4 linked regions of the Homo sapiens genome follow. The protein of the gene in region 1 purifies or fractionates together with the protein of each later gene. This does not show direct contact. Each region holds a gene or a part of one and is shown on either strand. Other genes may lie near its edges. The genes, in order: CCDC102A, TMEM169, DEFA5 and KCTD9.

The links.
Region 2: the proteins of CCDC102A (region 1) and TMEM169 purify together in Homo sapiens (co-immunoprecipitation; one large-scale study listed by IntAct). This does not show direct contact.
Region 3: the proteins of CCDC102A (region 1) and DEFA5 purify together in Homo sapiens (co-immunoprecipitation; one large-scale study listed by IntAct). This does not show direct contact.
Region 4: the proteins of CCDC102A (region 1) and KCTD9 purify together in Homo sapiens (co-immunoprecipitation; one large-scale study listed by IntAct). This does not show direct contact.

The regions. Positions count from the first base shown.
Region 1 is NC_000016.10:57,518,772-57,524,792, reverse strand, and holds part of CCDC102A (coiled-coil domain-containing protein 102A), read left to right. Parts: intron 1-3,616; coding exon 3,617-3,725; intron 3,726-6,021.
Region 2 is NC_000002.12:216,091,082-216,097,102, forward strand, and holds part of TMEM169 (transmembrane protein 169), read left to right. Parts: intron 1-4,756; 5' UTR 4,757-4,882; coding exon 4,883-5,153; intron 5,154-6,021.
Region 3 is NC_000008.11:7,053,246-7,058,869, forward strand, and holds DEFA5 (defensin alpha 5 preproprotein), read right to left. Parts: upstream 3,495-5,624; 5' UTR 3,453-3,494; coding exon 3,281-3,452; intron 2,299-3,280; coding exon 2,186-2,298; 3' UTR 2,059-2,185; downstream 1-2,058. UniProt on the Homo sapiens protein: Host-defense peptide that maintains sterility in the urogenital system.
Region 4 is NC_000008.11:25,450,263-25,456,283, reverse strand, and holds part of KCTD9 (BTB/POZ domain-containing protein KCTD9), read left to right. Parts: intron 1-2,708; exon of another isoform or gene 2,709-2,740; intron 2,741-5,802; exon of another isoform or gene 5,803-5,904; intron 5,905-6,021. UniProt on the Homo sapiens protein: Substrate-specific adapter of a BCR (BTB-CUL3-RBX1) E3 ubiquitin-protein ligase complex, which mediates the ubiquitination of target proteins, leading to their degradation by the proteasome.

The sequences.
Region 1 (6,021 bases):
GAATATTCTGCAGTTTTTCTGTCCAGAAATTAAATACGACAATAGCATAACCTATCTACACACTCCTTTTTAAAAAATCAATATAATGGCCAGGTGCAGTGACTCATGTCTGTAATCATAGCACTTTGGGATTCCGAGGCAAGAGGATTGCTTGTGGCCAACCTGGGCCATACAGCAAGACCCTGTCTCTCTCTCTATATATATATATATTTTTTTTAGACAGAGCCTCACTCTGTCAGCCAGGCTGGAGTACAGTAGCACAGTCTCGACTCACTGTAACCTCTGCCTCCCATGTTCAAGTGTTTCTCCTGCCTCAGCCTCCTGAGTAGCTGGGATTACAGGCATGTGCCACCATGCCTCTGGCGCATGTTCTTTGTAGTTCTCCTGGAACTGCATTCCCTATCCAAGTGCAAGTGCCCAGCTCACATTGTGGGGAGGTGGTCGGGGTTCCAGAGCACTGAGCATCCCCGGACAAGTACCTCTCTCCTGCTGCACCTCAGGCTCATCTGAAAATGGCTCCAGGAGGTGGCGGCCCCAGCACTGGCCACTCCACTCCTTGGCCCACCTTGTTCTTCTCGAAGGGCTGTCAAAGACCACCCTGCTCCTGTCTGTTTTGTAGACTATGTTCCCTGCAAGGCTTGGTCTGAACACATGTTTCTGCAGATAGAAACACTGGAAAACACTGTCCAGTGACCCGAAGAGAGGGTTCTCTCTTGCCATCGTCACTGTGTGGGATCCCTACATCCTCCCATAACCCCCACCCTGCCTTGATCTTGAATAAGGCACTGTAGGTTACAAGCATGATGCCTGGCCCTGGCAGAGTAGGTGCTCACCAATGGCTGAGCTCAGCATCACCTTCCAGCACGCTGCCCTTCATGACCCCACACCACACTGGCCTCTCTCTCTGAGAGTGGAACACTCCACGCCTCCAACATGGGGTTCCCAGAGGGGACAACCCAGAGGGTGGCTAAAAAATTAGCCACCAGACCCGGCTAATTTTTGTATTTTTCATAGAGACGGAGTTTTACCATGTTGGCCAGGCTGGTCTCGAACTCCTGACCTCAGGTAATCCACCAACCTCAGCTTCCCATAGTGCTGGGATTACAGGCATGAGCCATTGTGCCTGGCCTACAAAAAAAAAAAAATTAGCTGGGAACGGGGCTGTGCCACTGTAGTCCCAGCTACTTGGAAGGCTGAGGCGGGAGGATCGCTTGAGCCCAGGAGGTCGAGGCTGAGGGAGCTGTGATTGTATGAATGCACCAGTACCCTCCAGCCTAGGTGACAGAGAGAGACGCTGTCTCAAAAAAAAAAAAAAATCACTATAATGCCTTTGTGAAGATGTAGGCAGAGGTCAGGGTGATGCTTTTGCGGACATTGTTGCATCTTTGGCCAAGGAATACCAAAGATGGCCAGCAAACTGCCAGAAGCTGGGAGAGAGGCATGGAACGGATTCTTTCTCGCAGCCCTCAGAGAACCAGTCCTGCCAACAGCTTGATCTTGGACTTCTAGCCTCTAGAAATATGAGAGAATAAATTTAGACTGTTTAAGCCAAACAAGCAAAAAAATCAACCTAGTGCACTAACTGAAATATAAAGTAGAAGTGAAAGTAACTTTTTTTTTTTTTGGAGACAGAGTCTCGCTCTGTTGCCCAGGCTGGGGTACAGCGGCTCTATCTCAGCTCACTACAATCTCTTGTCTCCCTGGTTCAAGCAATTCTCATGTGTCAGCCTCCCGAGTAGCTAGGACTACAGGCACACACCACCACGCCCAGCTAATTCTTCGTATTTTAGTAGAGACAGGTTTTCACCATGTTGCCCAGGCTGCTCTCGAACTCCTGAGCTCAGGGAGCCCACCTGCCTTGGCCTCCCAAAGCGCTAGGATTACAGGTGTAAGCCACTGCGCCCAGCCTGAAAGTAACTTAAAATACACGTGTTGTGATATGGGAGTGCTTGGGCATAGCTCCTCTAGAAGAAATGGTGAAGTGGTCAGAGTGGGTGTCTTTAAATGGGATGATAGTGACGATAGTTATAACAGCAAAGACATAGCATGTGCTCCGAGTCAGGTGTTGTGTTGAAGGCTTACATGTATCTGCACATTTAAGTCACCTCGCAGGACAGCTACAAAGGCGGCTCATGCAGGTGTGCAGACTTAGCAACTCAAAGACACAAGTGGTGTCACTGCGATGCGCTTTCTTGAGAGATGAACAGCCTTTGGTAAAGTTCTGAACAAAGCAAAGTGCAGCCGGGCACCGTGGCTCATGCCTATAATCCCAGTACTTTGGGAGCTCGAGGTGGCAGGATCGCTTGAGTCCAGGAGTTCCAGGTTGCAGTGAGCTGTGAACAGACAGGAACAGGGTAGTCTTTAAGAGATGAGCCTGGGGTACAGCAGGAGGGAGGTACTTGCCCAGAGATGCCCAGTGCTCTGGAGCCCTGACCACCTCCCCACAATATGAGCTGGGCACTTGCACTTGGGTAGGGAGTGCAGTTCCAGGGAGTGAGCTGTGATCTGCACTCCAGCCTGAGCAACAGAGCCAGATCCTCTCTCTAAAAACAAAGAAAAGTGCAGTCTTCCTTCAGTTTATACAGTGATTCCATTCCTAGAAAATTCAGTGTATGTTAGTATAAAAATTACTTTCTGTTTCAATGTAAATCAGAATGAGGCTGTAGGCTCAGATCATCTCTACCCCGAGCAATGTCCAGTGGGCTGTGCATGCATTCAGTAGGATGCAGGATGCATCCTGATGGGCAGGACGCCCAGGGCATTGCAGGGAGTCAGGCACCCTGGCCCCCGTCCACTAAATGACCCCTAATCATTGTGATAGCCAAAAATGTTGCCATGGGTTTTCAACATGCCTCCTACAGGGTGACGTTGTCCCCTCTGGGAACCCCATGTTGGAGGCATGGAGTGTTCCACTTTCAGAGAGAGAGGCCAGTGTGGTGTGGGGTCATGAAGGGCAGCGTGCTGGAAGGTGATGCTGAGCTCAGCCATTGGTGAGCACCTACTCTGCCAGGGCCAGGCATCATGCTTGTTACCTACAGTGCCTTATTCAAGATCAAGGCAGGGTGGGGGTTATGGGAGGATGTAGGGATCCCACACAGTGTCGATGGCAAGAGAGAACCCTCTCTTCGGGTCACTGGACAGTGTTTTCCAGTGTTTCTATCTGCAGAACCATGTGTTCAGACCAAGCCTTGCAGGGAACATAGTCTACAAAACAGACAGGAGCAGGGTGGTCTTTGACAGCTCTTCGAGAAGAACAAGGTGGGCCAAGGAGTGGAGTGGCCAGTGCTGGGGCCGCCACCTCCTGGAGCCATTTTCAGATGAGCCTGAGGTGCAGCAGGAGAGAGGTACTTGCCCGGGGATGCTCAGTGCTCTGGAACCCCGACCACCTCCCCACAATGTGAGCTGGGCACTTGCACTTGGATAGGGAATGCAGTTCCAGGAGAACTGCAAAGCCAGGGTGCTTCTAGCCACATAGGGTGCCTGGGCCTGAATACCAAGGCAAGGATTTTGGACTTGGGCTCAACAAGTGCAGAGGGCACACAGCAGGGCCACCCTTGGTGAGGACTCCAAGCAGAGGGCCTTGGTGGGCTCACCCCCATGTCTGTCCCTTCCCCAGGGATAAACTGGCGTTGAGCAGGAACATTGAGAAGCTAGAGGGGGAGCTCAGCCAGTGGAAGATCAAGTATGAGGAGCTGAGCAAGACCAAGCAGGAGATGCTCAAGCAGGTGAGTCTTGGAGACCAGAGGGTCTTCCTGGAGGCGGCAGGATCGCGCTGTTGAATTTCAGTAGTGGAGATGGAAGAGAGAATTCATTCATTAATTCATCCAACAGTTGTTCTTTTTTTTTTTTTTTTGAGACAGAGTCTTGCTCTGTCACCTAGGCTGGAGTGCAGTGGTGTGATCTTGGCTCACTGCAACCTCCACCTCCCGGGTTCAAGCGATTCTCCTGCCTCAGCTTCCCGAATAGCTGGGATTACAGGCACCCGCCACCACGCCCGGCTAATTTTTGTATTTTTAGTAGAGACAGGGTTTCACCATGTTGGCCAGACTGGTCTCGAACTCCTGGACCCAAGTGATCCTTCTGCCTCGGCCTCCAAAGTGCTGGGATTACAGGTGTAAGCCACAGTGCCTGGCTTTATTTTATTTTAATTTTATTTATTTTTATTTATTTTATTTTATTTTATTTATTTTATTTTATTTATGTTATGTTATGTTATGTTATGTTATGTTATGTTATGTTATGTTATGTTATGTTATTTTTTCTGAGTTGTTCTGAGTGCTGGGCAGGCAAGGTCCCTGCCTTCAGGAGCTCACTTTGTGGGGGCTGTGGGCATGGGAGACCGACAGTCACCAGGCAGATTCATAATTTATGAAGGAGTCAAAACAGAATGAGAGAGATGGGGTGGTAGGTCAGGGAAGGCCTAAGAAGGTGGCATTTGAGGCAAGACCTAAAGGGGCTAGAGGAAGCTGTCCTTGAAAAGATACAGGGGAGAGTGTTCCTGGCAGAAGGCACAGCGGTGCAAAGGTCCTGAGGCAGGAACAAGCCCAGCGTGTGCGGGAAACAGGGAGGGCCAGGTGGCTGGAGAGCAGGAAGTGAGAGGCGAGGCCGCAGGAGGGGGCCTTGTAGACCAGGATGAAGACGAGGAGGCTGGATGTGGCATTCATTGGGTTCCTATCTGTACTAGGTGTCACTGAAGCCTCATGGCAGCCCAGGGAGCTGGGTCCTCATGTCCCCATCTTACAGATAGGGAAACTGAGGCTCCAGAGAAGGGAATCCACCACTGCAGTGTGGGGGCTCAGAGCAGGCTGAGCTGCCACTACGGCCTCCTGTGCAGGCCTCAATGGCCACCAGAGGGCGCAGCCACCCAGGGAACGCCACACTGGATCGGTGGGTTTCTAGCAGCTGGGAGGATCACAGAACTTTAGAGCCTGAAACTGTCCTGGAGGGGACCAAGACTGGTCTTACATGAGAATCTCTGAGGAAATCTCCTAAAATACAGATTCCCAGACCTCGCCTCCACCCTCCTGAATCAGCACCTTTCAGGGCTGGGTCCAGGACCCTGTTCTTTTAGTCTTTTCAAATTATGAAGTATAATCATTCGAAGAAAAGCGAATGAAACACAAATGTACAATTTAGTAGAAAATTATAAAGGTTCTCTTTTGTATCTGGTGTCTCTCCCTCAACATTATGTGTTGAAAACTCATCCGTGTGTTACAGGGAGCAGCAGTTTGTTGGGGTTTGCTGTATACCGCAAGAAATGTTATTGTCTTAAATGCACGCCAAGCAATGCCGATGCACCTGTGTGCAGAGCAGTGTTGGAATTAGTCACTGTACACTGAGGGCGGCCCTGTGCCCAGGCCATACAACGACACAAAGGTGGACAGACGCACAAGCTCCCCGTCCTCCCAGGCTAGCTTTCCAGTGGGGAGTGGGATGAGGAGGCCCCTCCTCCAGGCCAGGTGGGCAGAAGAGGCATTCCTAAGGAGGGGGCCTTTAGGTCAAGGCCTGAGAATAAGAAAAATCAGTCCTAAGAAGTGTCTCAGAAAGATCCACGCATGTGCAAAGGCCCTGTGGTGGGCAGGAACTTGGTGTGTCTGAGGAACAGAAAGGAGTCCCTGGTGCCTGGAGTACAGTGAACTAAGGGGGAGCGGCGGGTAGGTGTCCAATCGTGCAGGGCTTTGTGAGAGCGTAGAGAGGAGTTGGACTTTACCCTAAGGCACCTGGGAGCCATCAGAGGCTTTGTGGGAGGAGGGTGGTATGATTGCATTCATCTTTGTTAAAAGCTCCCTCTGGGCTGCTGTTGTAGAAAACGGGTTGACAGAGAAGGGCCAGGAGTAGACACTGGGAGGCTAGACAGTAATGAGGAGGAGAGACATTGGGAGGAGCAGAAGTGGTCAGATTCGAGGTCTGTTTGGAATACCTGGTGCCTGCCCCATTTGGGCGCTGCCTTGGCTCCACGCTGAGCACTCCTGCACTGGCGCCCACCCCCGGAGGTGGTTCCAGGCTATATCCTGGTGGTTC
Region 2 (6,021 bases), on another chromosome or scaffold:
GATTGACTTTCAGAAACAAAGGACTGACTGGATGGGTTAATTTCCAAAAACATGTTTGCTGAGTGTTATGGTATGGTTTGTTTTCCCCCCAAATCCATATGTTGAAATTTCAGCCCCCAAAGTGATGGCATTAGGTGAGGCTTTATGTCATGACGGTGGAGTCCTCAGGAATGGGATTAGTGCCCCCATAAAAGAGACCCAGAGGCTAGGCTCAGTGGCTCACACCTGTAATCCCAGCACTTTGGAAGGCCAAGGCGGGCGGATCATGAGTTTGAGAGCAGCCTGGCCAATATGGCGAAACCCCATCTCTACTAAAAATACAAAAATTAGCTGGGCATGGTGGCGTGTGCCTGTAGTCCCAGCTAATTGGGAGGCTGAGGCAGGAGAATTGCTTGAACTTGGGAGGCAGAGGTTGCAGTGAGCCAAGATTGCGCCACTGCACTCCAGCCTATGCGACAGAGTGAGACTCCATCTCAAAAAAAAAAAAAAAAAAAAAAAGAGAGAGACCCAGAGAGCTAGTCAGCTCCTTCAGCCACGTGAAAACACAGTGAGAAGGCACCATCTATGAACCAGAAAGTGAGTCCTACCAAACCCCTAAACTTGATCTTGGATTTTTTGCTCCCAGAACTGTACAAAATAAATTCTTGTTGTTTATAAGCTACCTAGTCTATGGTATTTTCTTATGGCAGCCCAAATGCACTAAGACACTGAGGGAGATTGTTGTTGATCAATTGAACAGGTTTAAAACTGGTTCTATTGTCTACTTACCATGACTACAAAATAACCCATCTTTTCCTAAGTTTGTGGGAATGTTTTGTAGTCTCAAAGGATAGTGTTCTAATTGTAGGGAGATGAGGAAATCATGTTTCAAGGTAAATCAAGGACAGTGTCTCTGTCCTGTGACTACTGTAAGTAGACATTGGCTGGGCACCTTTCTAAAATGAGCTGTGCCTGAAGCAAAAATAGCCCCCCTAAGGTGAATAGCCAGGAGCTCACCCTTTACATTTCATATTTCTTGTCTAAGGTTTTAATGGGATGTTCAAAAGTCATCTCTCTTTTTGCCTCTGATAGGATTGTCCCTCTCCTCCATCAGCCAACAAGATGACCATGTTTATCTTTTATATCCCCAAGAGACTCCAAAGCTTCTCTTAGCTACTATTTTCTGTACTAGTCTGTCCCTGGGCTCAGGAAGCTCTTCCTGTTATCTAACATTGGCCTCTCCCATTGTGCCCAACCAAATCAAGAGTGTCGAACACTACACCTTTTTATGTTTTTTTTTAATTAAATTAATTCTTTTTTTGAGTGATTCGCCCGCCTTGATCTCCCAAAGTGCTGGGATTACAGGCATGAGCCACCGCACTTGGCCACTTTTTAATGTTTATAAGGCCCATTAATAAGGGTCATCATCTCCATGCATGTGTTCACTTTGCCCTGCCACATCTTCCTAGAGCACCACCCCCTCAACAAAGAGAGAGGAAAAGGGAACAAGAAGTATGAGATTTGCAACTTGCCTTCTCACGTGTACTCTTTAACATTTCTGTCTCCCTTCTGAACATCTTGGTACATCTTTAAAGAAGGAGTAAGGAGTACAGAACATAAACCTTCTCCCAGCTCTGAAGCTCTGGTCCTTTAATCTCCTCGGGGTCTCAACCCCTAGTTTGAAAATTCATGCTGTATAGAAGGGCCAAAGAAGGCCCTTCACAAGCTGCCTCAGAAAACAACAGAGAGAAACAGATGATCTAAGTAGGAAAACACGGTGGATTAGGGTGGCCTCCCAAGCTGTGATCATTGCACCTTCAAGTAAGTACAAAGTGGTTTGTTCAGAGGTCATTCCTACCATAGAATTACCATGATGCAGCTTTCTGAGTGTCAGTGTATAAGAGGACTTGGACCAGGGAAAACATTTTTGTATTAAACATAGACACTTAGAGAGTAGAATTACAAATGTATGTATATACACATTTGTATATAAATATACATATGTATAAGTACATATATAGATATACATATATATGTATATCCTGGAACTTAACGTAATAATGAAGTGTGTGTGTGTGTGTGTGTGTGTGTGTGTGTGTGTGTATACATATAAAATCTTCACCTGGGGGTGGATTGCATTCAGCCTCCCCATTCAGTTTCCTCTGGGTAGAGGTCCACTGTCCTCTGTGTAGAAGCCACTTTGGTAGAAGAGCCCTGGTCAAGCTCATCAATGCCCAAGGCCTGCTCAGCATTCTAATGGTTGGATTAATTGTCCTCTGGAGCTATTTACCTTGGGAGGGCTCTCTCCCCTGCTTCTTCCTGTGTACATCCTTGTACTTTTAGACACCTCAGCCAAATGAATCTCCTGGTCCAGAAAGCTCCATGGATAAGAATTTAAAGATAATGGCTTTCATTCTGCCCCTAGTACACCCCCTAGACAAAGTCAGGCAGTGAGGACGTAGTGAAACCTGCCCATTTCATCCTGTGGATCCTACCACTAAGATTCTCAATTGTGTCGCTGGGTGCCTGATTTATTCCAGGCATTGGGTTAAGTGCCCAGTTATAAAGTTAATTTAGATCCAACATCTGCCAATCCAATGGAAAGACAAAGAAAATCAACAGAGGCTAGAGGAAATACTGGGTGAGAGGGCAGCAGAGGAGAACTCCCCTGCCTGGAGGGGGAGAAAAAGCCATTCCATTGAGCTTAAAATTTACCTAAATTTTAGAAACATTGAAATGAGAAAAAAAAATATGTATTCTGGCATTTTAAGAGATATGCTATACAGTACTTCCTGTCACATGGTAATTACCAAAGATATATAAATTTGCTTCAAAATGAATGGAGCCTAGTGGAATTCTAGAGCCTAGTGGAATTTTTGCTTCTTTCTTCTCTCCACTGCCCCACTCCCATCCACTGGGCCAGAACACTAGACATTGGGAACATTTGAATACACATGAGAGAAGAAGCTTTATTATTGGAAATAAAGGGATGGCAAATGGTGTACATGTGGCAGTAAAATAAGGCTCAGAGAGCACTGAAATACAGTGAGGGATTTGGGAGTTGGGAACAAAAGTAACAGCCAGTAACCTGGAGTTGCTGAAGAGTGTACAGCCTCGAGGAGTGTGGGGCGGCAGGGTTGTGAGTAGAAGCTTGCGATTCTGAATAATATGCACAGTTATTTGAAAAGTGGGGAATTTTTTGGTAAATCGCTTGGAAACTTTTTATATCCATAGCGGGTACCACTATAGTTCATAAGTTATTTTTCACAGTATAAATGCCAATAATATTGCATAACAGCAGGACCATTTGCCTCTTTCACTAGGATTAAAACTGGGTATGTTAAAAGTGCATGAGAGTATTCTAGCTAATAAATGAAGAAGTCAGAGAAATGGAATATCATTTTGTAACCCCCATGATTTAATGGGTATAGTCAATGGCCATTAACGGGCTGTTAACTTCACAAAAAGAGTCAACCAGACATTAGGGGACTTCTAATGGAAGTACAAACACCACCTCTAAAATTGTCCTGCCAAACAAAACAAACCATCAACCAAAAAAATTTCAATGTGAAATTGATCAAGACTTTCTATTTAGCTATCAACTCATAACACAGAGTTCAGAGGAACACACTGTGGGGATGCAATCAGCAAAACCCAGGCTATGAGAATCTGCAAGATAAATGACCCGCTTTCTTTAACAAATAAGTTACCAGGAAAAAAAAATGAAGGACAGATATACAGACCTGCACTGTCCAGAACAGAAAGTGGAGAGACACTGTTATTTTAAGGGGGAAAGTGAAGCCTCTCCACCGCTCTTGCAGCACGTGATAGGACACATCCCAGTAACTTTTTGAGATTGTGGGCTGACAAGAAGCCAGGAGACAGATTTCCTTTACAGAATAGCAAGGTAGACACAGTTGGTGAGGTTGTACCATTTGAGTGGCTTGCTTAATGTTGTATTTATCCATTTGAGTATAGTTTTAATGTATGATTCAATAGCCAGAAGTCTGGAATACTGGTCCCAGCCACCTATGGTTCTTTTTTCTTTCTTTTTTTTTTTTTTGACAGAGTCTCGCTCCGTCACCCAGGCTGGAGTGCAGTGGTACAATCTCAGCTCACCAGGCTCAAGCAATTTTCCTGCCTCAGCCTCCTAAGTAGCTGGGATTACAGGCACCCACCACTACAACCAGCTAATTTTTGTATTTTTAGTAGAGATGGGGTTTTGCCATGTTGGCCAGGCTGGTCTCAAACTCCTGACCTCAGGTGATCCACCCGCCTCGGCCTCTCAAAGTGCTGGGATTATATGCGTGAACCACTGTGCCCAGCCTACCTGTGGTTCTTAACTCTCACCTACTGGTAAGGCTTCCTCACCCAACTTCCTTATACTCTGCATGCTCCAACTAGAGGCTGATTTATACACAAAAATCGGTAACACAAGCAGACTATGCTAACTACTTATGTATATAAAATAAAGAAACAATAATTGTTGACTTTCATATGAATAAGGAAAATGCAAATTATGACAACAATGAGATATAGTATTCCTTCACATGGGTTTTGCCAAATATTATATGTTTGTATAAATGACAAAAATATTACTGTAGCAAAAGTTTATTCACTGTCTATTATAAGAGATTTAGATTGCATTCCCAAAATAAAGTATTGCAAGAAGTAAAGGGAGAGGAAGGCTTCTGCTAAGTTGAGGATCGTTTCCCACATTCCTGTCCATCTCACCCCATTTGCTTCCTGTTGATGGCTTTGCTTTCCTATCTTTCAGGTGGAATGCATCCTTGGGACATCTTTGCATAGCCCCATCTAGGAAGAAGTTCTGTGATGTGTGAACTGTGAGTTTACTCAAACAAGTCCAACTCTTTATAAGACATAGGTAGACGTCAGGTCTGGAATGGAAGAGCCAACAGCAGTAGAAGGCCAGGTCCAGCTTCCAAGCCCCCACCAGGGCTCTCTCAGGAAGGCTGTGGCTGCTGCCCTGGCGCTGGATGGGGAATCCACAATGGGGCACAGGAAAAAGAAGAGGAAAGAGTCACGCCCAGAATCCATCATCATCTACCGCTCAGACAATGAGAAAACAGATGAGGAGCCCGGAGAATCAGAAGGTGGAGATCAGCCTAAAGAGGAGGAGGGAGATGATTTCCTAGACTATCCTGTGGATGATGGTAAGTCTCTCTAGCCCACTTGTTTAAAGCCATGGGAAGGAAACCAAAAGGGCATCTTCCAGAACAGACAGGCATATGCTCACTGTCCTATTTCTTCTTGGTGATACATTTCTTCTTGCAATATTACCACCTTTTATTTATTTATTTTGAGACAGAGTCTTGTTCTGTCACCCAGGCTGGAGTGCAGTGGCATGATGTCGCCTCACTGCAACTTCCACCTTCTGGGTTCAAGTGACTTTCCTGCCTCAGCCTCCTGAGTAGCTGGGACTACAGGCATGTGCCACCATGCCGGGCTAGTTTTTGTATTTTTAGTAGAGACTGGGTTTCACCATGTTGTCCAGGTTGGTCTCGAACTCCTGGCCTCAAGTGATCCACCTGCCTCAGCCTCCCAAAGTGCTGGGATTATAGGCATGAGCCACTGACCTGGTGCAATATTACAGTCTTCATTCAACAAATGGTCAGTATTTACTGAGCACCTATTACATTTTTTTCTAGATGATACAGAAATCTCCACCCTTTCAGAATTCCTAATGAAATGGAAGAGGCTGATTTATACGCAAAAACTGGTAACACAAGCAGACTATGCTAACTACTTAATGTATGTAAAATAAACAATAATTGTTGACTTTCATATGAATAAAGAAAATTATGAGAAAATTTGCCAGAAGAAAATCATATGGCAAATTATGACAACAATGAGATATAGTATTCCTTCACATGTAGGCTTGCCAAAAATTGGGTAAAATGTGATTACATCAATATGAGCAAATGGATATACTTCATGCACCTTAGTGAAAGTGGAAGCCGCTTCAACCACTTTGTGGAGGAAACTTGTCAACGTTTATTAAATATTTAGTAAAATTCACAG
Region 3 (5,624 bases), on another chromosome or scaffold:
CCAAAAGATGTACTTGTATAGAGCATCTGAGGTCTCCCCACTCCCCATTCTGGTTCCTGCTGTCGGAGACCCTCACCTCTTGGGTGGTGCATGAGAATGCTCGCCTTCCTCTATCATGCTCTCTTGCTGGCCCTCCACTTCCAGGACCAGGTGTGACAGCAAAAGTGGAAGAGAGTCCTGCTAAGAAAGGTTGCTGAGGCAGAGAACCAGCCCCTACCACCTATCTCCCAGTAAAGTGGAGAGCTCTCACCAAGGACCATCAGATGAGGAAAGGCAGCACCAGCCTGCACTAGCCTGGTAGGTTCTTTAATATTGGAAGGACTTTGGGGCACAGAGAAAAATCTCACCACTATTTACACTAAGTTTAAACCAGTTCTTGAGTATTAAATATTGATACAAAGGTGATTATTTAAATTCCCTTCATCTATATTGATGTAATACATTTAGTATGCCTAATTGTTTTTAAACACATCTAATACCTTAAAGAATAGATAAACATATTCCTGAAAGACAATCACAAACTTATTCATTCATTATACCAAAAATGATACAGAAGGGCCCATATCATGGATTTGACATCTTTTCTCATTTGTTTTGAGTTTACTCCTTCCTATGATTTTTGTGATCTTCCGAGACCCCAAATGACTAAACGAGGTTGCAAGTCTAGGGCCAAATAGCTGACCCTTGATCAGGAAACAGTGCTTTGCATGTGTCTAAGATGAATCAAACCCAGACTACTTGTTATTTATTATCAGGCTGAGACTTTTTGTTGTTGTTGTAATAAAAATGTTTGGTTTTTTTTGTCATGTCATGACACTGTTCAATCCCTGTCTTTTATATAAATTTTAATTCTAGAAACTTGTTTTTCTCACAAATACGTCGTTCTTAAGTTTTTGCATAGCCCTAAGTGTATGGCCAATTTTCTTATCATTATGATGTATTGACTTGGTTCATTGGCATAATTAAAAACATATTAACATATATTTTCTCACTAGCATTTTATTAAAATGAGTATAGCTTTATTATAATAAATAGAGTTCATATGCTTGAAGGGATGGAGAGTTGAGACCAACTCCTTCATTAAACATTGGTCTAATTAACCTTTTGGGGACCAGTGAGGGACCATTTGTCTCATTGGTTATTGGGCCTCGTCCTCTATGGTCACCAGCTTCTGAGCTCCTCTTCTATCTGGTTATTAATTGAGATCACTGATGCTTGTCAGTCTTTCTTGTTTTGGGCACAGTTTTAACTTTTTCCTTAGTAAACTTTATTTTATTCTATCTTGTTGATACAGTTATATATCACCAAAACAGAGTGAAATAAAGCTTAATGTAAAGTGTATATATTTAACACATCTGCTTAAAATTTCAAAAATTATGTATAGCAATGCTTTCCCACTTTTTAAAATTAAAGGACAAGTAAACATAGCCCATTAGATCTATCTTTCCTTTGAGCCAACAACCACTTTTTGCCTCTCATTGTAAACTTCTACTTTTTGAGTATCATTAGGAATGCATTGAATTTTTAAGTTTCAAACTATTCCAATTAACACTTATATCCTGTCAGGAATGGTGGCTCAAGCATGTAATCCTAGCACTTTGGGGGGCTGAGGAGAGCAGATCACTTAAGCTCAGGGGTTCGAGACCAACCTGGGCAATATGGTGAAACCCTGTCTCTACAAAAAAATACAAACCATTAGTAGGGTGTGGTGGCACATGCCTGTAGTCCCAGCTACTCAAGAGGCTGAGGTGGGAGGATCATTTGAGCACAGGAGGTCAAGGCTGCAGTGAGCCGAGATTGCACCGCTGTACTCCAGCTTGGGTGGCTAAGTTAGACACTGTCTCAAACAACAACAATAAAAAACCCAATTATATTCATTTTTGTTATTTTGTTATTGCTCTATGATGCTCAAATTGTGCATCATTGGAATGCAAAGACCAGTTAACTTAATGTAGATCAGAATTCTCAATACAAAGGAACCATACAAACCACCATATAACAAAGCAAAAGAAAAAAAAGGAAAAAGAAAAGAAAATTAAAAAGGTCAAACACACTAAGTTTAATGCTTGAACTTTATTTTGGAGAGAGAAATTTAGAAAGACACAAGGTACACAGAGTAAAATGTTTTTCTTTTTTCAGGACCTTGAACTGAATCTTGCACTGCTTTGGTTTCTATCTAGGAAGCTCAGCGACAGCAGAGTCTGTAGAGGCGGCCACTGATTTCACACACCCCGGAGAGGGACTCACGGGTAGCACAACGGCCGGTTCGGCAATAGCAGGTGGCTCTTGCCTGAGAACCTGTGGAAAGAAGAGAGGGTCAGGCACAGCGAGGGAGGTGGGAAAAAGGACAAGCACAGCCAGACTAACTGAGATAGTCTAAATAAGAGACACTGTATCAGTCATGTTAGGATGGAGAAAATTCATGTCTTTGTCGTAAGTGACAAGAAATCTTACTAGCTATGTGTTAGTCATGCAAGATCATAGTTTTTTTCCCCATGTGAGTCTATCCAGGATGTATTTATTACCTGCTCCCTGGTCCAACAATATACCTCTCAACCTCAGGGTTACCTACTCTTCATTCTGCTTCATCCACACGCCTAATCTTGACCTCCATGTGTGATTTCCAGGTCCTAACAAGGCTCCCTAAAGCACCTGAATCAGTTTCTGAAATGCCGCATTGTGCATGCTAATGTCATGGACCAAATACTTTGGTGCTCAAGGAGTCTTTGAAGACTTTCCAAATTCAAATTCTTCATTCTCTGTCTCTCCTTTTTTTTTTTTTTTTTTTTTTTTTAACATTTTACATATTTACTTGTTTTAATTGACAAACAATAATTGTGTATATGTATGAGACACAATATGATGTTTTGATCTAAGGATGTATTGTAGAAAGATTTAATCAAGCCTATTAGCCTACATCAAAACACACCTATAGGTTCCTCTCTAGGTTCTAAAAGCTTTTCCAATGGACAAAGTAAAACACTCTCTATATAACTAAGTCTGCCCATTTAGATCTACAAAGAACTAGTCAGTGTAGCTCTTTCTATCTTAAAAGTAGCAAATTTCACAGAAATATCTTGGAACTGAAAGTCTTAGAAAAAAGAAAATCTTTTAGATTTATTTGGTTCTCACTGATTAATTTATAGATGAGAAAATCAAGGTCCAGGAAGATTAAGTAAAGTCACTCAAGTGAGGTAGACCTTTCCACACTTGACTCCAGATCCTTTCTCCAATCCTTTTTTTCTAGATTTTGCAGATGTGCAAGATTGATGTCTCCTACCTGAGGTTCTAAGAGCAGAGAGTCCATTTCCTGCAAAGGAGATAGCAAGGTCCTGGTTGTCTTCCCCAGACTGCTTCTGGGTTGTAGCCTCATCAGCTCTTTCCTGGAGTGACTCAGCCTGGGCCTGCAGGGCCACCAGGAGAATGGCAGCAAGGATGGCGATGGTCCTCATGGCTGGGGTCACCTGCAGGAGGGAGAGCAGGAGTGGATATGTGGGGAGTGAGGAGTCAGCCTGGATTTATAGCTCTGCTGGGAGAAGACCTGAGACAGAAGCTGCAGTGAGAGGAGGTGGGCATGTGATTGGGAGGGGAAGGACTGCCTTTGTTCTCAAGATCCCTTTGATGCTCCTCTTTCTCCCAGCTTTCATCAAAGCGTGAGTCTGTATGCTTAATGCCTCTTCTTGATCCAAGGTGTTAATGATGATAAGGGTATTACTATCCTGTTCTGTTTCCCATCTGCTTGAGTATTTACTTTTATATATTCAAAAAAGAAAAACAACAGCGCTTTCATTCAAGAAGTTTGGGGATCAAATGCCTCTTGTTTTCTGAAGATGGTCCCTGGTACTCTCTGGATGACTCTCTGGGGGCAGACCTGGGACTCAGTGGAGTAGAGAGTTAATTCATTGCAGGATTCAGGGATATTACTAACCTCATGTAGGAGGCTTTTGAGATCTCGAGGTGAGTAGTCTCCCGCTGGTGCCAGTATGGAGAGGTCAATGACCTTATCAGGCTATAGGGGAAATGAGTTCAGTAAAATAGTAGGCCAAGTTTATCAGATTAAAATAAAAATTCGGATTTAGTTCAAGGAGTTGGTGTGATCTGAATGCATCACATAAAATGTGTAGCGGGTACTTCTCTCCACTTTGGGGAATATCAAAGTAATTTAGGTGCGTACAGCCCCTTTCTGAGATTTTTTTTTTAGTTTTAGAAAATTGTAAATCATGCACAAGGAACAACATTCAAAAGGTAGAAGTCATGAGCTCTCATTTCTACCCCCAGGCCTTCAGTTCTGACCCAGCAAACCATCACTATTAACAGTTACACATAGTATTCTGCACTTCGCTTTTTTCACCTGTAACATTGGCACTTTGTATATCAAAATACATGGAATGCTATTATAATTTTAATAGCCTTATACTATCCCAGGGTTTGTATATGCCATCACTTATTTTTTGTACTGATAAAATATTATAAAATTATTACAATTTGGTTATTTTTAAACTTTTGCAGTAATAAGTAAAGTTACAGTGATTATCTTGTATATATGTTCTCTTACCTATATGGATAAACTTATAGAAATAGAATTGCTGTGTCAAAGAATGCATCTTAAGCCAGCATGGTGGTACATGCCTATATTTCTAGCTATTTGAGAGGCTGAGGTGGGAGGATCACTGGAGACCAGGAGTTCGATACCAGCCTAAAAACATAGTGAGACCCCTTTCTCTTAAAAAAAAAAAAAGAGACTATATCTTACACATTTTTAAGATATTACTACATATTTCCATAATATCACCATATTTGATCCAAATCCTTTGGGGCTCAGTGGGCCCTTGGAGAGTCTCTATATTTGAATTCCTCATTTAATTTTTTTCAAATTTATTTATTTATTCATTGAAAAATAATTTTCTGTATATTTGTAGGGTATGATGTGACGTTTGGATTGATATCCACATGGGAGAAACACATAAGCTAATTAAGATAGCCATCACCTCACCAACTTAATTTTTTAAGGAGAATTACAAATTGATTCCTTTAGCAGTTTGAAAGATACAATACATCACTATTAACTGTGGTCACCGTGCAGTGCCATAGATCACTAAGACTCTCCAGCATAACTGAAACTTTGTACTCTTGGCTCAACATCTTCTCTTTTCCTATCTCACCCACCTGCAGCTTCTGATGACCACCTTTGTACTCTAGTTCCATAAAACTGACATTTTAACATTCCATGTGTAAGTGATATCATATAGTATTTGTCTTCCTGTGTCTGGTTTATTTCGTTTAGCACATTGTCCTTTGGTTCCATCCATGTTGTCATGAATGAAGAATTTCCTTCTTTTTTTTTTTTTTTTTTTTTTTTGAGACGGAGTCTTGCTGTCGCCCAGGCTGGAGTGCAGTGGTGCGATCCCGGCTCACTGCAACCTCCGCCTCCCAGGTTCACGCCTTTCTCCTGCCTCAGCCTCCTGAGTAGCTGGGAGTACAGTCGCCCGCCACCATGCTCGGCTAATTTTTTTGTATTTTTAGTAGAGACGGTGTTTTACTGTGTTAGCGAGGATGATCTCGATTTCCTGACCTCGTGATCCGCCCGCCTGGGCCACCCAAAGTGCTGGGATTACAGGAGTGAG
Region 4 (6,021 bases), on another chromosome or scaffold:
TTCCCATCCACCAGTTGGAATATCTGTACCACTTACTTTATCTCCCTTACCTCGCTTCTGCTTTTGTTTCCTGGTTATAAGAATAATCTCTGTTTTTTCAAGTAAGTTTCCCTCTCATAGCTTGTTTAGTAGTTACCAGACTGTGAGACTATGAAGCCTGGGGAAGGGCGTGGAGAGGCACAGAATTCTTCCAAGGTGCTGTGTTATATGCTCGCCAGGAATTGTCTGTGTATTGAATGAATGTAACTAGTGGTGGACGTATTTGACGTTGGAGAGAGGGCTATGCATTCTCTAAACTGTGGTTTCTGGAGTGAGATGACACACCACAGACAGTGTCCAAGACGATTTATTGGAGGTCAGGAAGAAATATACCTTTTGTTTATATCTTACACTTAAAAATATAAAATAATGTGAAAACTTGATTTTTCCGATCTAGAAAGACACAGGTGCCTCCAGTCACTGAACATTCAGCTGGTCTCAGGTCTCCTGTAAGAAGGGACGGCCTTCACATGTGAAAAGGTTAATAGTGTCTTCTTCACAGATTGGTTGTCATTGACATTGTGATATGGAAGCTTACAACCGGCACATTAAGATTTATATCTAGTTTTAACCAAATTAACCCTCACCAAAATGCCAAGTGATCTTAAAGGATTACTTCAAAGAAACTGCAGCTTGAGACAATATTAATTATGCAAGCACAAGTAAACAATGAGGAAATGGCAGAAGCTGCCACTTCTCCTAGTATGTATAAACCATGAGACTAAAAAAAGAGTGGGTCTCTTTGGACCTGAGAAGTTGAAACAGTGCTGAGTTTTAAAGAAGAATATTTGAAGTCCTATTTATTAATTGCTATTAATAATCAGCCTCTCCCTAAGTGTATGTTATTCTTTGAAATATTAGCCATTGATAGGATGAGTCATCCTAGTTAGCAAGATATTTAGAAATAAGTTCTAGTGCATGAAGACAAATGGCTTCAGATTTTTTTCTTTTCTGATTTTTTGGTTTTTGTTTGTTTTTTACTTTTATTTATTTATTTATTATTTATTATTATTATTTTTTGAGACGGAGTTTTGCTCTTCCACCCAGGCTGGAGTGAAGTGGCGTGATCTCAGCTCACTGCAACCTCTGCCCCCCAGGTTCAAGCGATTCTCCTAACTCAGCCTCTTGCTTAGCTGGGATTACAGGGGCTTGCCACCATGCCCTGCTAATTTTTGTATTTTTAGTAGAGACGGTTTTCACCATGTTGGCCAGGCTGATCCTGAACTCTTGACCTCATGTGATCCACCTGCCTTGGCTTCCCAAAGTGCTAGGATTACAGGCGTGAGCCACCATGCCCGGCTTATTTTAATGTTTAAAGTCAATCCTGTATTTGGCAGAATTTCACTAAATTTAATGATAAATATTTAGGAGATTCTTAGTGGCTAATTCATAGTCTGAGTCACTGAAAGTCCTCATCATTTGGGAAAACATGTACTTTCTAACAGTGGAATGTAGTTCATAAATACATAAATATACAGATGTTTGAGTACATGCCCAAAAGTATGTTACCAATGGGGTGTGTGGTCAGAAACATTTGAAGGCCTTAGTTCTAATCACTGGAATCTTTGGTTTAAATTTTGAGGGTTTTTTTTGTTTTTGTTTTTTAAAACTGCTCCGAAAGAGTCAGTTATGTTGTTTGTACCTGTCATCCTTTTTCCATGTGCCTCAACATTTTCGTTATTCTTTTTAATATTCCCTGTAAGAGTTGGCATTAAGGAAATTGAAATGGGGACTTGCACATCTGCATGCAGTGTGTGGCTTCTGAGCAACTTAATGTCAGTGCAGAGTTTCTATACGTCTTGAACACAGAGTGCTTTTTTTACTTCAGAATATTCAATAATGAGCTGTGCAAGTCCTAGGCCTTTTGTATACTGATTAATTCATCATTCATTCATTCATTCATTCAGTGAACACTTAGTAAATGCCTTCTGAGTATGTGGCATCATGCCAAACATGGCAAACAGGGTAGGAAATACTTTCATTCTGTACCGTGTTTTCATTCTTGGTCCAAGAAATAACTTTTCTTCAGGTTTTGGTATTAGGTCAGAAACATGTTGGGGGCAGGCACAATGGCTCATGCCTGTAATCCCAGCACTTTGAGAGGCTGAGATGGGAGGATTGCTTGAGTTCAGGAGTTCAAGACCAGCCTGGGCAACATAGTGAGATCCCATCTCTAAAACAACAACAACAACAAAGAATGAAAAAGAAATATGTTGTTAGTAGTAAGTATCCAGGTTTGAATCCATTACGTTGTTAGAGTTGGAGAAAGGTGAAAATTTATCTGAACCTCTGCCTCTGAAGGCTAAACATTAATAAGAACCTAGTGAGGGCCCACTTTTTAAGCTTGAACATTTCTTAATATATTTGATACATAGAAAAGAATACAATAAAGAATATACATAAAAAGAGGAACATAATATAGCAAACATCTGTAAATCTGCCAGATAACCCAAGAAGTAGCATGTTATCAATAACATAATGTGTTTATCCACGTTCCTGTACTCCTGTTTTGTTTTTCTCTTTGCCGTGTGTTTTTAAATAGTTTTGTCACATATATATGCATAACTAAATTACCTTTTTTTTTTTTTTTTGAGTCGGAGTCTCACTCTGTCGCCCAGGTTGGAGTGCAGTGGCATGATCTCTGGCTCAATACAACCTCCGCCTCCCGGGTTCAAGCAATTCTCCTGCCTCAGCCTCCCAAGTAGGTGGGATTACAGGCGCCCGCCACCATACCTGGCTATTTTTGTGTTTTTAGTAGAGACAGGGTTTCACCATATTGGCCAGGCTGGTCTCAAACTCCTGACTTCGTGATCCGCCAGCCTCAGCCTCCCAAAGTGCTGGAATTACAGGCTTGAGCCACCGTGCCCGGCCCTCACCTTTTTTTTTTTGAGACAGAGTCTCGCACTGTCACCCAGGCTAGAGTGCAGTGGCGCGATCTTGGCTCACTGCAACCTCTGCCTCCTGGGTTCAAGCGATTCTCCTGCCTCAGCCTCCTGAGTAGCTGGAATTACAGGCACGTGCCACCACTCCCAGCTAATTTTTGTATTTTTAGTAGAGATGGGGTTTCACCATGTTGGTCAGGCTGGTCTCGGCTGACCTCCTGATCTGCCCGCCTCAGCCGCCCAAAGTACTGGGATTACAGGCGTGAGCCACTCTGCCTAGCCACTAAGTTACATTTTTAAAAAATCAGCTTCGGGACATACGGTATCTCAAATTGATATTATACTGTATATAGTTTTTTGTGGAGACAATGTCTTCCTATATTGCCCAGACTGGTCTCAAACTCCTGGCCTCAAGCAGTCCTCCTTCCTCAGTCTCCCAAGGTGCTGCGACTACAGGCATGAGCCATCATGCCAGGCCAGTCCTTGCTTTTTTCGTTCAATATAATTCTCTTCCAACCATAATATCTGACATAGTGATAATTTATTCATTTTTACTGCTTTATTAAAGTACATGTTATACAAATACTACCATGATATTCCTGTCAGTGGACATTAGGTTGTTTATTTTCTTTATATTTTGTTGTTAAATTGACAGTGCTGTCATGAATATTTCTGTATATGTATCCTGGCACACAGCAGCAAGCATTTTTCTAGGGAGGTAGTTAATCAAACTTTAGCATGCATCAGAGTCACTTGGAGGAGGAGGAGGACTTGAGAAAACTGCTGGACTTCATCCCCAAAGATTAATATTCAGTAGGTCTGGGGTGGGGTAGGAATGTACATTTTTAATTTGCAGGTGAAATGTGGTTCAGATGCTGCAGGTGACAGGATCACACATTTGAGAACCACCACTCTAAGGTATAGACACATAGTTGTAATTATTGGGTGTTAGAATATGTAAATATTCAGTTTTGCAAAATAATGCCAGATTGTTTTTCAAAGTCATTGCAGTAATTTATATTCCCACCACCATTGCATAAATCTTCCCTATTGGTCCACATCCACTCCAACACTTGATATTACCAGTATTTTCCATTTTAAAATTTTCTTTTTTCACCTTAGAGTTAATTATCTCATCTTTTTTTTAAATTATCTCATCTTTTAAAGAATAAGATCATGTAAATATTTAAAATGTATTTGACTAAAAGTATAGGTAGAGAAAATTGAGTTCTGTATTTAGTTACTAGTGGTGATTAGTGGTTTTGTTGGGTAAATCAGCCTGCATAAATTCAACAATTTATGTGTATTGTATATTACATAATGCACAATAAATACTTGTGTATTTATCATAACAACTTTTTGCAAATTAATTTTTTTATTGGACCTTTAGGATCCAGGCAGACAGCCAGATTAGAAAATATTTAGTGATATGGTAAATTGTTTTTGATACTTTATTAGGATTGATTAAAGTGGCAATAAAAGTTGAATTCAAATACACAAATACTTGTGTATTTATTGTGTATTATGTAATAAATCTTGTGGGTATAAAAGAAAAAAATATTTTACATGCATGTGCAGGTTTTAATTTTTAAATTTAAATAATACAGGTTACAATTTGAAAATGGTGTTTAAAGGTAAATTAAAACTAGCCAATCGTACTAGGCATGGTGTTCCATTTACTCTCCAACTCATAGGCAGCTTTCACTTGTCATGGGATCTGAAATTTAAAAATAATTGACTCTGAAAAGTAGTATAATACAGACATCATGAACTTTAATAGACATGCTTCTCAATAAATGTAAAATGCTTCTATTCTTAGGGCCTAAGTTGTTAAGGTAGATAATCCCAGTGACATGGAAACATCAGGCCACATGGTGGAGATAACACATACAAAGTAAATGACCTTTGTAAGCACTATCATTTTATGATTTATTTGGCTCAGTATGAGGACAAAAACAATCTTAGTATATACTAACTGGAGCTTATGTCCATGATATACAAGATTTTTATTGCTCCTCTTTCTCAAAAGAGTTATATAAAGAAGAATGCATGTGCCAGTCTGTTTGCAACTTTCTCCGTAACTTAATCATCTTTTCCATATGTATGACAAATTTATGTTGATATATATATTTTAAAACCTGGTTTCTAATTAGTTTAAAATACAGAGTTTTTGCATATTTGAATATTAGTATTGCAACATAACTCCTTTTTATTTGTATGGTATTGTTAGTATGTGCGAATGATTAGTTGGAAAACAAACGTCAAGAATAGCCCTCCAAGTGAAAACAAGTATATTGGCCCAACTTAAGGGAAATTTTCAAATTTCTAGAACTATAAGATTCTTCGTATTAATTTTAATTCTGTTTTCTCTAATTGACCACCCTTTGGTTATTTCACTTAAAGGAAATTGTTAACTGCCTGATTGCAAACTGCTAAAATAATTTTATTTATAGAACTAGTATCTGGAGCTATGGAGACCTTAAAATAAATTAAAACTTCCCCCCTTATTACAAAAGTAATATAGGTTCATTGTAACAAATTTGGAAAACAAACAAAATAAAGCAAAAAACTTAGCAGGGTGTGGTGGCTCATGCCTGTAATCCCAGCACTTGGGAGGCTGAGGCGGTTGGATCACGAGGTCAAGAGATTGACACCCTCCTGGCCAACATGGTGAAACCCCGTCTCTACTAAAAATACAAAAATTAGCTGGGCGTGGTGGCACGGTTTTACCATGTTGGCCAGGCTGGTCTTGAACTCCTGACCTCAGGTGATCCACCCACCTTGGCCTCCCAAAAAGTGCCGGCATTACAGGCTTGAGCCACCATGCCCAGACTGCTTTAGAATTGCATTTATACTGTGTATTTTTTTACCCTAATGACAGTGTAAGAGACTTAAATGAATATGACTGTCACACAAAAAAGGTGTGTCCTACTTCAACACTCAACATTCAAGAAATATTTGTCAAAGACCTGCTGTAAGCCAGGTAATGTACCATTTGAACCTATGGCGGTTATTAGTAGAACAGCTCAGGAATGTACTTCTTTAGTGCTGCTTATCAGCTTTACCAAGGGATAATTGGTCACCTCTATTCACAGAATTC